Regions from separate parts of the Homo sapiens genome. Here region 1 is linked to region 2. The links come from fine-mapping of genetic effects on gene expression. A gene starts in region 2. The other region holds a variant in brackets. All regions are shown on one strand. Distances are between the middles of the regions.

Region 1 (2,921 bases), 90 kb after region 2:
CATATTTCCATTGGGATTTTGCCTTGAGACAAGATTTGAAAAATAAATCTTTCTTTTTTGTTTATCAATTACCCCAAATTATATTGGCAACTACTGTTTCTTAGTATAATAAAAAATGGTCAAAGTTAATAGTGTCAAAAGGATTCTAAAGTTGCCTTGATAGCATACTGTCTCCTGTCGCTAAATTTGTGACCTAACTCCCATAATGTAACAGTTAACTAACATTAAAATTGCCCATAGACATAAACCACAATCACCATGGAAATCCAGGAGCTCATACTTAGAAAGACAAACTCCTACATCTAAATGCCTACTCCAAAAACTACCAGCATGAACCTTTCAAACAAAAAATAATCATATACTATTTTAAGAGGCTTAACATGTCATTTGACAGAATAGCAATCTTACAGAGTCTTGGTTGGGAAGCAAAAACAAACCAATTCTAACTCATGAAGGCTTGAAGCTACGGGTTAGAATCAGTTTGTTTTTGCCAACTATTAGACTCAACTTCAACATTTTCCTAAAGAGTTTGCATTCTAATATTCACTGACTACATTAATAGACTCAGTTATCACTTAAGATTTATATTTCAAACAGGTAATTAACAAATGTTTAATAATTAAAACAATAAACATTAACCTAGCCCAGTGCTCTGTATTAAACTTTCCGACTAAGTTAAAAAACTAAAAGAATGTGGTACTTCTATATTCTGACCACAATATACTGTTAAGTAGGGAAAAGCAGGTTACATATGAAATAGTCTCTTTTAAGGAAAGTGTACATAATTATGTATTAAATACATCTGCACAGAAGAGTCTGGCAGCATATATATACTTGATGATGGGGAAGGAGATAGGACTTAAAGAGACTTAACAGGCAATTCCCTTTTCTACTTGTCTTAATTCTTGGATGTTTAAAGCAATAATTATGAATAACTTTAAAAGTCAGAACTAAAACCCCTAATTTCCACTTCAAAAGAACATCTAATAGAATGAAGCCTCCTAGCTTGCTGAATTGAAAAGAGTAATCTAAGGGTGGAGTAAGCACATGTAAAGAGAAATAGTCATGCAAGAACATAGGCAATCGTCGCCAGTGGTACATTGAGTAGAGCTGTGGGCCTCTGCAGTGTGAAGGGATGGAAAGACTGGGCAGTCAGGGAGGGTGTGCCAGGAAAGGTGAAACTGCATCATGCAAGGCAAAGGGTCATCACAATGATGGGAGCCTAGAAAGACTCCAGTCAGGCATGCTCCATCCCTCCAGGCATCTGGGCTAACCATCTCCCCTGACTGGAACACTCTTTCACCAGAAATACACAAGGCTCACTCCCTGGCTTGCTTCATGTCTTTGCTCAGATGTCACCTTATGGTTGGGCATACTCACCCTGGCAGTCTATCTAAAACTTAAGAAGCTGCCCACAACACTTTGATCTCCCTTACTCTGTTCTATTTTTTTTCCATA[G/A]CACTTATCACCATCTTAACTCTTGTATAAATTAACTTATTCATCATATTTATGGTTTGTTTCCTACCACTAGAACGTAAGCTTCATAAGGCCATTGATTTTTCTGTTTTGTTTTACTGTTGTATCTCCAGCAATCAGAACTATTGTTTGCAATATTATTATAATTATTATCATTAGAAATAGTAGTAGTTTTACTTTATTCTTGTCATCCTTCCTTTTCTTCAAGGCATAATTCAGGTTCAATAAATGGTTGTTGCAGGAATGAATGAATTGCTAAGGCTTAATTGAAGATGTATGTACTGTGCAGTATTCTAAGTGCTTTGTATTCACTTTTTAAAGTTAGTGATACACATTTCTTTCCCCTTCCATTTCCTCCTCACCCCACCTCTTGTATTACATTGCCCTTTACCGTCTTTTTACACTTGTTCACTTTGCTTTCCCACTGGACGTTTTCAAACAATCTTTTATTTTTCTCCTCATCTTTATTAGCTACTTCTAGATTATCACTTTTACATTTGACACCACTTGCTAACCCCTTATACCTGCTCCGTACACACAAATACACATATATTCCTCATCACCCCCATGCCAACCACCACCATCACCACTCCTACCATCACCACTACCACACCACCACCATCACTACCACCATCCCCACCACAGACTTCACCACCTCTACCTCCACCACCATCACCTCTACCAGCACCTCCACCACCACTACCACCAGCACCATCACCACCTCTACCTCCATCACCATCACCACCACTACCCATCAACATTACCACCACTGCCATCAAAAGGCAAGGGCAACCATATTTCTGACAAGGGAGAGAAGACTTGAAATCTTAGCTTTAAGGACTAGATGATTTAAGGGAAAGCCCTAAAGCATGAATTAGCTTTAAATACGTAAGATTGTTTTATATTAATTTAGATTTCTCTTAGTTCAAGTGAAATAGTAGATTTCTAGAGTCTCTAATGAAGGTCAATTCTTATCATCCTTTTGAAGTTGAGAAGAAATTAGAAGAAAAGGAAGCTGAGAAAAAAGCAGCAGCTTCCCTGGCTGAGCTTCCACTTCCTACACCTCCTCCTGCTCCTCCTCCTGAACCAGAAAAAGAGAAGGAAATTCATCAAAGCCATGTGGCTTCAAAAACTCCTACTGCAAAAGGAAAACCTCAATCAGGTGATTGACAGAATGATTTATAATCCTGTTTTCAGTTTCTTATTTTTACTCAGTAAAGAATTATAAATTATAGTCTATCTACATTCAGACTTTGGGCAACTTCAATCATATGAAACAAGGCTTTACACTCAGATGGAAGTGGAAAAGCCCTCGGAGTAGCTAAAAGCGTAGTTGTTACAAAGCCCAACTTCTTTGCCATGTAGGAGGAGACATGGAGTCATCACACCTAGGTCTACTGATTAGAGTAAGACCACAGACGAGAAGAGGAAAAGGCACAGAGTAA
Region 2 (2,921 bases):
AGTATGGAGGTTTCTCAAAAAACTAAAAACAGAACTGCCATAAAATCCAGCAGTTCCACTACAGTGTATCTATCCAAAGGAAAAGAAGTCAGTATATCAAAGGGATACCTGCACTCACATGTTTATCACAGAACTATTCAAAATAGCCAAGATATGGAATAAATCTAAGTGTCCATCAGCGAACAAATGGAAAAAGAAAGAATGGTATATATACATAACGGAATACCATTTGTCCATGGAAAAGAATGAAAACAGGTCATTTGCAGCAACATGGATGAACTGGAGGCCATTATGTTCAATGAAATAGGCCAGGCAACAGAAAGACAAATACTGCATGTTTTACTCATATGTGGTAGCTAAAAAAGTTGATCCCCTGGAGATAGAGAACAAAATTATGAGTACCAGAGACTGGAAAGGATGTGAGGGTGGGAAGGGGAAATGAAGAGAGGTTGGTGAATGGGTACAAACTTATAGTTAGATGGAAGAAATAGGGTCTAATGTTAGCTAGCAACTGGGGTGACTATAGTTAGCAATGATACATTGTATATTTCAAAATAGCTAGAAGAGAAGATTTGAAATGTTACCAACGTATATAAATGATAAATACTCAAGGTGATGGATACCCCAAATACCCTTCTTCTTTTTCTTCCTCTTCTTTTTTCTTCTTCTTCCTCTTCTTTGATCTCTCCTTGTTCTCCTCCTTCTCCTTGTTCTCCTTCTTCTCCTTCTCTTTCTTCTTTTCCTCCTGTTCTTCCTCTTCTCCTCCTCCTCTTCCTCTCCCTCTCCTTCTCCTTCTTGTTATTCTTTCTTCTTTCTTCTTCTTTTTTGAGACAGAGTCTCATTTTGTTGCCCAGGCTGGAGTGCAGTGGCTCGATCTCGGTTCACTGTAAACTCCGCCTCCTGGGTTGATCCTTCCACGTCAGCATCCTGAGCTGGTGGGACCACAGGCGCACGCCACCACGGCCGCCTAATTTCTTACAGAAAAAAAAACGGTTTCTGCTACCTTGCCCAGGCTGGTCTTGAACTCCCAGGCTCAGTCGAGCGCCACCCCCTCCACAAAGTGGTAGGATTATTTGCGTGAGCCACGGAGCCCTGCGGAGACTCTGGTTTTACTTTCTGCTCACCTAAGAAGCTCCTGCTGTGTCCCTAAGTGTTCCCGCCTCGCCTCTCCCCACACCCACTGCTCCCTAACTTCTCTCACAGGCCCCCAACGGCTTCCTCCTGCGCTGGCGCACGCTCAGGTCTTACCCGCCAGCAGGTGGCGAAACACGATTTTCTGTCCTCTGCGGCTGAGCCCTAGCGTCCCCTCTTCTCTAAGGCCTTTCGCCTAGTTCCAGCCTGGATACGCTTCCATAGCAAAGGGTTGCCCTTGGCTACAGGAGGACGCGGGCTGGCAGGCTTGGTTCCTGGCGAGTTTCTAAGCCCCCGCCTGCGGTCTGAGGCACCGGCTGAACCATGTCGGAGATCCTGTGCCAGTGGCTCAACAAGGAGTTGAAGGTGTCCCGGACCGTGAGTGAGTGACCACGGCCAGGGGCGAGCGTCTGAGGGGCTAGCGGGGCGCAGAGCCTGCAGCGCAGCGCAGCGCACTCAGGGAAGGTGGCGGGCAGGGCGCGAGCTGCACAGGTGGGGCACCTGCGTAGCCGGCAGCATCCCACAGTGAGCAACTCGGCTCGGCGGTGCCCCAGGTCCGTCCCGCCACCTCCCTACAGCTCACCCCAGCCAGGGCAAGGCCTTGTCACGTCCCCACTCTGCCGCTCTCGAGTTACCCTTGTCACGGTGGGCCCAACCCGCAGGCATTCTGACTTTGTGATGTGGTTCTAGGCAATCAGAGGGTTTAGGAAGGTCTCCTTTGCTTCTGTGGAGAGGGAACTTTGCTGGACTTTGTAGTCTGACCCCAACGATGCCTCCTTCACATCACCAGAAGCAGAAGCATGGTGTGGTGGCTAGTCGATGAAATATGAAGCCACTGGACAAGTTACAATACCTTCTCTGAATGTGTTTCCTTCTCTATAAAATGGACCTAATAATGCTTTCCATACTTAACTGACCAGCAGGGGAGGGTGGGTGAAAAATAAGTTAATGTAGAATATGTTAACATTTACAAATTTTAGTAAATTTTAAGCCCCAAATCACAAACTAGCTATTTCTGGTCACTATTGGCTCTTGCCCAAAGCTGACCTTATTCACCAACCTAATTTTATCCTAACCATGCAGTTGCCACCCAAAGTTTCCAAGTCTGACAACCACAGAGACAATTTTACATGCTGGCAGCTTCCTTGACTGCCCTGTAATTCTTCAGGAGTTCATTTTTCAGTTGGTTTTGTTTGTCTTTTTTTCTTTTTTTGCTTAAGGGAAGAGGTTTTCAGGGCAAGTCATTTCAGTCCATTTTCCCAGAAGAACTTGCTTAACACCAGCTTGCTACCAGAGAGGCAGTGGTGCCAGTTCAACCTTAGCTTATCTACAGAAGTTGCTAGATCGGTAGTGTTTCTGTGGGTGCAAAGTAGTTATTAATACTCTCAGCATGAGGATCTTTAGCACGGAGCATCTCCTGTTGCATTTCTTGAGGCATAAACCTCAGACTCTTTCTTTGTCAAATAACCATCTACACACTCCCTGTGAACTGCAATAAATTCTTTCCTGGTATTCTACGATTATCCCATTGTGTCTCCAACTGTTTATTTGCTAAAATATGATGGACTGAGGACAATATTTAGCATTTATTGTTTCTTATTCCTGTCTCACCATAGGAGCCAAAATAAAATATCATGCCCTTAAGTTGTACTCTTCTAAAAGAAAAGCAGTTACATATTGCTTAGTTTAATTTAGTTCATTTATTTTATTAGTAAAAACCACACCCGGGCCGGGTGCGGTGGCTCACGCCTGTAATGCCAGCCCTTTGGGAGGCCGAGGTGGGCAGATCA

Direction of the effects. Alleles are on the strand shown, and positions count from the first base shown. SD is a standard deviation of normalised expression in the study named.
As copies of G replace A in region 1, the expression in anterior cingulate cortex of the gene that starts at base 1,321 in region 2 goes up (moderate effect, 0.47 SD a copy in GTEx).

The links.
Region 1: its variant is fine-mapped to the expression of SPEF2 in anterior cingulate cortex (GTEx, PIP above 0.99).

Annotation. Positions count from the first base shown.
Region 1 is chr5:35,706,484-35,709,404 of GRCh38, forward strand. It overlaps SPEF2 (sperm flagellar 2), which reads left to right. Exons shown (of 37, transcript NM_024867.4): 19 at 2,465-2,638. Among named protein-coding and RNA genes, the nearest start is that of SPEF2, 90 kb to the left of the region's middle. The variant G/A (reference allele first, on the strand shown) is at 1,459.
Region 2 is chr5:35,616,543-35,619,463 of GRCh38, forward strand. It overlaps SPEF2 (sperm flagellar 2), which reads left to right and starts at 1,321. Exons shown (of 37, transcript NM_024867.4): 1 at 1,321-1,513. The coding sequence starts at 1,456. RefSeq lists an enhancer at 1,364-2,171.